Homo sapiens: one gene and its partners. The protein of the gene in region 3 purifies or fractionates together with the protein of the main gene of each other region. This does not show direct contact. Each region holds a gene or a part of one and is shown on either strand. Other genes may lie near its edges.

What was found.
Region 1: the proteins of SNAP91 (region 3) and CLTCL1 purify together in Homo sapiens (affinity purification with mass spectrometry; one large-scale study listed by BioGRID and IntAct). This does not show direct contact.
Region 2: the proteins of SNAP91 (region 3) and ASNS purify together in Homo sapiens (affinity purification with mass spectrometry; one large-scale study listed by BioGRID and IntAct). This does not show direct contact.

The regions. Positions count from the first base shown.
Region 1 is NC_000022.11:19,236,200-19,239,855, forward strand, and holds part of CLTCL1 (clathrin heavy chain 2), read right to left. Parts: intron 3,190-3,656; coding exon 3,076-3,189; intron 1-3,075. UniProt on the Homo sapiens protein: Clathrin is the major protein of the polyhedral coat of coated pits and vesicles. Two different adapter protein complexes link the clathrin lattice either to the plasma membrane or to the trans-Golgi network.
Region 2 is NC_000007.14:97,855,353-97,859,008, reverse strand, and holds part of ASNS (asparagine synthetase [glutamine-hydrolyzing]), read left to right. Parts: intron 1-53; coding exon 54-155; intron 156-603; coding exon 604-731; intron 732-2,192; coding exon 2,193-2,319; intron 2,320-3,549; coding exon 3,550-3,656.
Region 3 is NC_000006.12:83,702,492-83,706,147, reverse strand, and holds part of SNAP91 (clathrin coat assembly protein AP180), read left to right. Parts: intron 1-3,221; exon of another isoform or gene 3,222-3,259; intron 3,260-3,656. UniProt on the Homo sapiens protein: Adaptins are components of the adapter complexes which link clathrin to receptors in coated vesicles. Clathrin-associated protein complexes are believed to interact with the cytoplasmic tails of membrane proteins, leading to their selection and concentration.

The DNA of each region.
Region 1 (3,656 bases), on a different chromosome or scaffold from region 3:
GTTGTACTTGATTGAGAATTAGTTTTAAAGACAATATTTTGTCCAACCACTCTCAAATAAAGGTCCAATAAACTCAGGCTACTCCATTTATCTTTCAGGTAGAGCGATCCTTTCACAGTTTATCGAACCCCTTTAAGCAAGCTGTGAGTTCATAAGAGAAGGGGAAAGTTCTGGACAAAGACCTCAAACGCCAAGATGATGTTCCAGCATGCCTTCTACCACCACTTATTAACCTTTGAGTTTTGCCAAATGCTATTAACTTTTACAGAAAAATATTTAACACACAAGAAAACCTGAAGGGGCTGGGGAGAAAAAACAGATGCATTTGCCCAACCAGATTATTAAACATATATATTAAAACAGACAGTAATTTTTGAAGTATGATTTTACCACTGGAAGAGACAGAGAGAGAAAATAATTAAGAGCCCTGAAAGAGAATGAATCATATATGAGAATTTATTAAGAATGAGTGTGTGGTGGCTAATGACTATAGTCCCAGCTACTTGGGAAGCCAAGGCAGGAGGATCACTTGAGCCCAGGAGTTTGAGTCAAACCTGGGCAACGTAGCAAGACTCCAACTCTAGAAAAATAAATAATTAGTAGGTAACATATTAGTGGAAAATAGGCACTTTAATCAATATATAACATATATTATTAATATAGTTAGCTAGCTATCTGGAGATGGAGGTAAGAGTAAAGAACTGAATTTCTATCTTACTCTTTAGATCAAAGTAAATTCCAGATGGGTCAAAGATTTTAAATAAAAAACAAGGACAATTAGGATAGGAATGAAAGAAAATATAGGTAAATGTTGTGATCATCTTCAGGTGCAGAATTAGTCTCAAAACATGATACCACTGCCACACAAAAATGCAGCACTTCCATAAGGTGCCACATATCACAAATTACGACTGGGAAAAATATTCAAAATACATCAGACACTTAGTACTCTACAAGTACAAAAAGCTCTTACGAATAAGGTAAAAATCCTGGAGTTGGGCACAGTGACACACACCTGTAACCCCAGCTGCTTGGGAGGCTGAGGCAGGAAGATCGCTCGAGGCCAGGAGTTCAAGACTGGCCTAGGCAACATAGCAAGACCCCATCTCTACTTTTTAAAAAAAGATCCCAATAGAAAAAAAATGCAAAGATTAGGAAAAGGCAATTAACCGGATACATATGAGTGGCTGATACATCAATTCTGCCTTGATGGTAACCAAGGGAAAGACATCACAACATGGGATGCTGTCCAGCTACCACCGGCAGCATCAGTAGGAATGTGAACTGGCCAGCATGGTCAGGAGAGTCTGTGATGAGAGTGTGCCCCTGACCCAGCAGTTTAATTTCTAGGAATTTATCCTCGGACTTTTAGACTAACATACAAAGATGTATGGAGCACAATGTTCCTTATAGTGTTTCTTGTAAATGTAAATACCAATCAACAGGGGATTGTTTAAATGAGTTGTAGCAAATCCACAGAACAGATGACACAGACAATAAAATACATACATTATGTTACTGGAACAGAATGATCTACAACATAGCTAGAGGAGTTTATACAGCAGCAAGGCTAGTGCAGAGCCATTTTCATAAGAGTCCATCTGTATAAATCTGCACAAATGTATGCATGTTAAGTTACTTCCAAAGGGGTAGCCAAATTATCAGCAGTGCTAGGATTTCAGGTGATATTTAATCCTGCTGTTACATTTATTGATATTATTAGAAATGTACAGATAACATATATTTTATGAGAACAAAAGAGTAAAAAGGAGAGTAGATTATATAATCTTACATATATAATGTGATGCCAATTTTGTTCAGAAAAGGTATAGATCTAAATTTTTTATAAAACAAATTGTAAGATTTTTTATTTTTATTCTTATTTATTTATTTATTTATTTTTTGGAAATGAAGTCTTGCTCCAGGCCGCGGTGCAGTGGCATGCAGTGGTGTGATCTTGCCTCACTGCACTCTCTGCCTCCTGGGTTCTAGAAATTCTCCTGCCTCAGCATCCCATGTAGCTGGGACTACAGGTGCACACCGCCATGCCCAGTTAATTTTTTATATTTTAGTAGAGACGGGGTTTCACCATGTTGCCCAGGCTGGCGTCGAACTCCTGAGCTCAGGCAATCTGCCCGCCTCGGCCTCCCAAAGTGCTAAGATGACAGGTGTGAGCCAACGCGCCCGGCCAAGATTTCTTATATATTTTACATCCAACTGGTTTATCTACAGAGGAATGTTTTCTGACTCTGTGCCTTTGACACTTCCACAACAATATTCTGCTCCTCAATAAGGAAAGCACACTTGATCCTGTCACGAACACACTTAGCACACACGGAACCACCACAGGCCCTGCTGACATGTGTTTCTGTTTTAGGGAACCTCACAAGAACTTCAGGTCTCATAGCACGAACTCCTCGAAGTCTGGCTAGGCACATGCCACATGCAGGTTCAGGTGTTTTCCCAACCTTCTTGATGTAAAGGTGAATAATTCTCCCACCAGGGGCTTGGGACTACCTAGTTTCACTAGAGGCTGCGTGTCAAAGGCTGGGCCATTCTGAATGCCAGCTCAAAGGACTGTCCCTGGGAGCTCTAGGCTCCCTCAATGGCAGCCAATTGTAAAGGAAATAAGTGTTTTATTCTTTTTTTTATTATTATAAGTTCTGGGTTACATGTGCAGAACGTGCAGTTTTGTTACACAGGTATACACGTGCCCTGGTGGTTTGTTGCACCCATTAACCCGTCACCTACATTAGGTATTTTATTCTTTAAATATTCTCATACCACAGTGAACATCTAATCTTTTATAATAAGAAGGAAAGAGCTGAGGACTTTGATGTGTGACTTGGCAACGTCTTCCTGCTGCCCTAACTCACCCTCATGCCGGGCATTCCTTTCTACGAACAGGGCTTTCCCAGCTCACACGCCAAAGCCTTAGGCCTCTAAATGGGTTTGAAAGCATCACAGTGGCAGGAGACAGCAGAAGCAGACTAAAAATGGCAGCCTCCTGTATCTTGGGAGGTGCTAGAGTAGATTTTAGGACATGAAGATGTTTAGAGAGCAGCACATTCGTACCTGCATAGCCACTGGAAAATCATTCTGTGCCTCTGGAGGAAAAAACACATCTACTGCTTTCTTTACAAAAGGTTGGTTTCCCGCTGCAGGCTGTCCAACTTCAATGATGTGCAACTAGAAGAGAGATTTTAGGTCAATCAAGGGGACCGCCTGTGGTGGTGGGCAAGTGCTAGTCAAGGCACAGAGGCAAGTGGAGCCTCAGCTCCACACACTGGATGATTAACGCTAAAAGTCACATTCAACCAAAGCAGAACAACCCCCTTGTCGGAGTGCCTGTGATTATCCAATAACCTGCTGCCCACCACCAAGCATGGCACAAAGGGCCAATGCCAGGCAGCCTGGAGCCTCAGTTCCAGCACAGTGGCAGAGTCACTTCCCCTCCCCGGGCCTGGATGCCGATGAAACAAAGGGCTCCAGTCAGAATCTGCTGTCCCTTCCAACTCTGCTCTCTGCCTTTCTGGGTATGGCCCAGACTCATACAAGCCTGTTAGTGCAAGATCTCATCACTGGAGGCGAAACTCACGAGACATCCTCACCATGGCACAGGCCTGAGGTTTTCAAGGTTGTGCTGGGCGGGGGTA
Region 2 (3,656 bases), on a different chromosome or scaffold from region 3:
CTAATCCAGCCCAAGATTTTCTGGAGCTGTTTGATTTACTGCTGTGTTTATAGGTTTTGAGATAGAAACTGTGAAGAACAACCTCAGGATCCTTTTTAATAATGCTGTAAAGAAACGTTTGATGACAGACAGAAGGATTGGCTGCCTTTTATCAGGTGAAGTCAATTAAAAAAACCTAATTATATTTCATGTGTGTTTAATTGAAATGATTTGTAGCCATCCCTTTGGTTTTTACTATAAAATATTTACTGTATGATTTACTCTTTCCTTCATTATAGGATGGAAATGATTTTTTATAAGCTGTATTTAATAGTCATAGTCATACTCCAACTTGAGTTACACTATAGCTATGTTATTGGTGTTAAGAGTGAGTCAGTGAATGTTCTTTAGAATTCTGTGTAGTGATTTTTAACCAATTCAAATACTACTATTATCACAGTTTATATATTTTTCTCTTGTTGAAGTTGATTTCAGTTTATAAAACTTGGCGGATTTTAAATAGTAAAACTATGATCTTGGTGTTTATCAGGAATATACATCTTCTGTCCCTGTCTTATGCAAGGCACATAACTAGGACACTTCCACTTCCTCTTTTGCATGTAGGGGGCTTGGACTCCAGCTTGGTTGCTGCCACTCTGTTGAAGCAGCTGAAAGAAGCCCAAGTACAGTATCCTCTCCAGACATTTGCAATTGGCATGGAAGACAGCCCCGATTTACTGGCTGCTAGAAAGGTAAGGTGCTGTCTCTGTCCCTTGTGTAGTGTAGTTAGAGTAGACTTGTTATTAGAATGAAAATGGAGTCAATAATGGGTGATTCTACTGCTGCTGTATTGACTGGGTCAATTGTTTTAAATTGATTGTATTAAAATAGAATGAAATGGCTGTTGGATATGCACTGTGTTGTACACTGTCCTCTGTGTACTTTTATCTGTTATGACCCATGCAATTCTCACAAAGACCCTATGATGATAAGTATGCTCTTTTGAAAGTAAAGGTGTCTGGGCATGGTGGCCTACACCTGTAATCCCAGCACTTTACGAGGCTGAGGGAGGTAGATTACCTGAGGTCAGGAGTTTGAAACCAGCCTGAGCAACATAATGAAACTCCATCTCTACAAAAAAATACAAAAACTAGCCAGGCTTGGTGACGCATGCCTGTAGTCTTAGCCTTATGGGAGCCTGGGTGACAGAGTGAGACCTTGTCTCAAAAAAAAAAGAAAGTAAAGGCATAAGTCAGGTGCAGTGGCACACACCTATAGTCCCAGATACTTGGGAGGCTGTGGGGGGAGGTCTGAGCTCAGGAGTTCAAGTCCAGGCTGGGCAACGTAGCAAGACCCCATCTTGAAAAATTAAAAAAACGGGTTTTTTGTTCGTTTTTTTTTTTTTTTTTTTTTAAACGTAAAGGCATAGTATCATGGCTAAGACTGCAGACTTTGGAACCTGACTTGTGGTTTGAAATCCTGGCTCTACTCATTTATGTAACCAAAATAATAGTGTCTGCTATGGGGAAATTTTAAGGTGAAATGATATAATTCATGTAAAGTAAGTAGGGTAGAACTTAGCATGTAGTAAGTACTTAATGAGTGTTAGCTGTTATTATTATTTTTGAAAGTACTGTATTTAGAATACTGTGGGCAGAGGGCAGCTTGTCTGTATTCAGTGAGCGGGAGACCTAGTTCCCACTATGGAGGACTTTCGTAGCATGGATGAGAAAAAGCTAGAGAGCAGTCTCAGTGCAAGGTAATCAATGCCGAGAGAATCCAAAATAGCCAAGGAAAGCAGAATGAGGGGAAGGGCCATTCTATATAAGAATAACATCCTGGATATAAAATTAGGCATTTAAGAAGGACCAAAAAAGACCAAGCTTAGCGTGGGACCATGTTGGACTAGAGAGAGATGAGGTGGGTTAGGTAAAATAGGTAGAGAGGGAGGTGCCAACTGGGAGAATGGTTGAAGCCTTGGCACCAGAGGAGCTGAGGGGAGACTTACTTCCTGGTGGTGGAGTTGAAGCAGGCGAGGGAACAGTGCTGGATGGGGCTTGTATGTGGTGGGCTGTAAAGTCATTTTTCTTTTTTTCCCTTGTTTAGTTTTCACCATTGTTAATTCATAAAGCTTTGTGAACTCCCATCATGTTTGATTTTCAAGGGAAGTTATTTTCTTTAACAAGTAAATGGGTATTTCTTTATATAATAAGGTGGCAGATCATATTGGAAGTGAACATTATGAAGTCCTTTTTAACTCTGAGGAAGGCATTCAGGCTCTGGATGAAGTCATATTTTCCTTGGAAACTTATGACATTACAACAGTTCGTGCTTCAGTAGGTAAGGTATTATGATATTCTTAAATAAAAAGCTTTTTTTAATACTGAAAAAAATGTAAGGTTTAAAAAAATTATTTCAAGCCATAGTTTTAAAATGTTATTTAAGGATGAATGCAAATTAAATCCCTATGTTACTGATTATTTAAGACCACTTAAGAATTCTCTGAATCTCTTTTGGAGTGAAGGGAATAGTAAATACGTAGTTCAACCTCCACATTGTTGGTGTCACTGTTGGTGTTTCCCCAGGGAGCAGATACATATTTTCTGCCCTCTACCTCCCATTTCTCTTATAGTTTCTTGGGCTACAGTCTATATACAGTGAGGAAATAGGTCTTTTTGGTAATGCATTTTTGATAAGAAATAGTCATTTTAGATATATTCCATCACACAACTTACCAGTCACTAGCTATCATTGCTCTGCAAACAATACTAATTTTATCTTGTAGATAATGTATCTACTGAGATTGGAAGTATACCCCAAATCAGACTGATCCAGTGTTATTGAGCCTTTATATGCTACTGCCTCCCTTGAGAGACTTGCCTTGGAAGGCAAAAATATCTTAGGTATTACAATGGTTTATGGCCCTCCAAAACATCACAGTAAATAAGCAGATAGACAGGATAGCTCTGGTATTGGAATTTCATGGGGCTGGGGTGAGGTTAGGAAAATAAGTGTCTAAAAAGGCTCTCTAGCTGAGGTGATAATAAAAACAAGGTTGAGAAGAAACACTGGTTTAGAGAGATGTGGTGCAGGACCAAGGAGGCAAGTTTAATAACTTATATAGTCTCCCCAGCTTTATGTGAAATCTGGTAAATGGGGAGTGGCAGGGGGAAAATACCCATCAAAATTAACACTAAACCACCAAAACGGTTATTCTTATTTTTGTGTCATAATACCACTATGAAAGGCATGATTTTTAGGTATTTGAGTCATTGTTCAGCTTAGCAAAGTTTTGAGGTGGACATTCTTGGTCTAAAAACATTAGAATTTTAAAACCTGTTTAGAAAATGACAAAATGGTTCCGGGTTATTTTATTTTACAGTAGTACTTTTGGATTAAGTACATATAAATGGCTTATAAATACAAGGTCATTATTGTGGAAACTACTTTATATTAATATGAAGTCCAGTATAGTAGTAAAGCTTTCAATTATTTCCAAAAATCAAATCAAAGGCATTTTTGGTGGAAGGTTATGTTGACATTAAAGTTAATTTCTCTCTCTCATTTAAGGTATGTATTTAATTTCCAAGTATATTCGGAAGAACACAGATAGCGTGGTGATCTTCTCTGGAGAAGGATCAGATGAACTTACGCAGGGTTACATATATTTTCACAAG
Region 3 (3,656 bases):
ACATTTCATTAAAACATCATTCAGATAAAGGCTGACTTCTCCAGATCTAAATATTTAGTCACATTAGTATTTTAGTGGAAAAGTCTTTTGAAAATTTGAAGGTAGGAGGTTTTCCAATATGATTTCTAAGATGTGGAAAATAGGGGGAAGATTCCATGTTATAAAAGAAAGCAGCTGAAATAGGAACTGGTGTTGAATTATTAATATGAATGGTCATAAGAGCTGAACATTTATTGAGCAGTTACTATATAGCACGAACTGAACTTTATATTATTAATCTTTCATCACTTAATGGGTTCAGGGAGGGTAATTAACTTTCATGGCTTTTTTTTTTTCTCTTTGTGAGATGGAGTCTCACTCTGTCACCCAGGCTGGAGTGCAGTGGTGCATTGTCGGCCCACTGCAGCCTCCCAGGTTCGAGTGATTCTCCTGCCTCAGCCTCCTGAGTAGCTGGGACTTACAGGAATGCACCACCACGCCTGGCTCATTTTTGTGTATTTTTTTTAGTAGAGATGGGGTTTCTTCATGTTGGCCAGGCTGGTCTTGAACTCCTTCCCTCAGGTTATCTGCCCACCTTGGCCTCCCAAAGTGCTGGGATTACAGGAGTGAGCTGCTACTTCCCCTGTCCAAACTTTCATAGCTTTTAACCAGTACACTTAACTGCCATCTGTAGATTAGTAATATACTTTATTGAGAGAGGAGAGAAAATGAACCATATTAACCTAAATGGTCTAATCTCTAAAACACCCACCTTGCTTGCATAGCTTTCTGTGGAATTGAGCATCAAAATCCGCGTACATATTGCAGTCTTTATAATATGCATGAAAAAATTTTAATTCTATCATGAAAAAATTGAATGAAAATATTTTAATTCTGTTGCATAAAAAAATGACCAAAAACCAAGCACTGAGGAGTATTGGTTAGTGGTTTTTCTTTTTAATGTTTTACTTTTCTAATAAGTCATAAAATAAAACATCTTCTACTTAAAACCAACTTTTGGATGGAATTTGGAGACATAGTTATCACATTACTAATATGTACTATTCTAAGAGAAGATGATATGGAAAACCTGAATGTATATGTTATATGCATTATTAAGAGGACATCTTTGCTCAGAATTCTTTGTGAAGTTCCTTTAAAGAAACAGTAAACTACCTCAGTAATTTATTCACAGGTTTTCAGTAAACACCAGTTATAAAAGTGAATTGTTATTAAAACATGCAAACACATAATTAAGTTTCTTTATAGGCATTGAAGATTCTCAAGTAGTTGGTGTTTTAGTTTTGAAAATATTAAATACTGGTTGGGAGAAAAAGAGCACAAAATATAGAGTTTGGGGGTTTGAAACAAAAACAATTTCAATTTATTACTAGTTTGATTTGTATATAACTTTTTAGTTTGGAGTTTAGATTGGAAGATTATAAAAACAGATTTATGGTCCTGTCATTTTTTTTTAAAGGTATTGGATTAATTGGGCTCAAAATCCTTATGAAATATGTATTTAATATTAAGGTACTGGTTTAAATGATAAATTCTTTTCTCTTTAGGTTGATAGGCCAAGAAAATTATTATTGTTAGTCATGGTGACTTATAAAATGATTCTTAAAGATATATGATTTATACACTTGAAGAAATGATTTGTTAACATCTGAGGGCAGAATTATATCTGGTGAAAAGGTCGAGATGAAGAAACTATATACATTTATTCCCAGATTTTTTTTCTTTTTTCAGTGACAGCACCTAATAATCTAAGTAAGGATTATATATTTTATGGCACTTTTGGATTATGTAAAACTTTCTTTCCATACTCGACTATAGTGATGTTGCCCTTTGTATGTGAAAATTAAATACCTAACCAATATTGGTTTGACATTAACTTTTCTGGGTCCACCTGTACATCCTCGCCTCCTTTCCCTTGTAACTTTTTGTACCTATTTGCTAGCATATAAAACATCCAGGACTCAATGAGTATTTACCTTTTTAGTTACAACTGTTTGACACTTCAGTGTTGTCTGTTTTTTCTATTTTGTATGTGATGCCCTAAGGGATAGCCCAAGTCAAATAATAAAGTAAAAAGATCAGGTAGTAATAGGCACCCAGTACCTACCCAGTATTGTGTCAAGCTTGAACAATAAAATAGAGTTGGTCCAAAGTAACATCTGCAGGTGTAAATTGGAAAGTTTTGCAGCCCTGCCATGTGATTCATTTCAGTTAATAGTGCTTATGAGTGATTTCTATATATGCTACATTGTTAAAGTATCCTATTTATGATAATCAGAATTCAAACCTAGACATTACTGTTAACATCAAAACAAACCTTATGAAAAGCCAATTTGGTTTTCAGTAATCCTATTTTTTCCGTATTAAACACTTGAAGCTATTTAGTAATGAGCTTATCCCACATGAAAAGCAAGTGCTTCAAGTTCTGAATCTGATGTTTGAGAGATACTAGAATTTTACTAATGATTCCGTTCCTCCCAAATTATGAAAAAGAAAAAGATTATGTTTCTTATAAGACTATCTGGTAAAGGTAGTAGGAGACATGTACTGAGTTTTGATTCAAGACAAATACTGGCACATCAACCCAAATTCCTGCTGCTTTAATTTTATTCATAAAGTATCTGCAAAAAAAGTAAGAAATTTTGTGAGTAAAAATAGAACGAAAATTTAAACCTAAAAGTGAGTTTTCTTTGCATAAATGTGCTTAGTAAATATGAAATATATTTTAATTCATAGAAGTTCTGTTAGCACACTAATTCAGTAGACACCATATATTTATATTTGTGATAATTTAGTAGGGCTTTCAGTAAGTGCTGAAAGATCCAAAAAGTAAGCAAAGTTTACTGAATAAAATTAAGTAGAACAATGTGTAAAAGATTACTAAACACTAGAGTAACTTTGAATTTGAGAAGTGTACTAACTTGCTGTAAATATATTTTAATCTGATTTTTGTTTTCATTTAACTATTAGTTTAAAAAAAAAAAAAAAACACACCCTCTCACTTTACTGTACCAGAACATAATCTGTTCCTTCCTCTTGATTTTACCAGAAGACCCAGCCCAAGGGTGAAGAGATGGGGGAGATGCACTTCTGAAAAGCATTTAATATGATTATAATTCATACCATACATGTGTAATGGGCCCAACGTGTGTGATTCTGTGACATTCTCGAAGATGCTCAGTGTCCTAGGAGGGGAGAGAAGAGACCATGTGATCAGGGTTGGCAGGAGCAGGGGAAGCAGAGTGACAAACAGTCTTAGGTAATAGGAGGGAGCATGCTTTAAAAATGACACAAAAATAATTAAACAGAATTTATAGCAGCTAGTGGAACAATAGGGGTTTTTTTTCCAGATCTTTTTACTTTCTCATTTTCAAAAGAATCTTTTTTTAATGGTATAATGTTAAATATATTTGGGTCACTTTAGATTTTTTTTTTTTCAGTTTTTGCAGTTGGTGTGGTTAGCAGATACTTTCTTAGAATAAAATTGATAACTCAATTTGATTTTTAAAAAGTTGTTTTAGTGATTTAAAATGTTGATATGGAAAAATATTAAACATTATATAGATAGTAGGCAAATTCATATCCTAATTGCAATATTAGCTTGTAGCATTTTAAATTAAAATCTAAATTTCTTGATATATTGCCACATTAGTTGT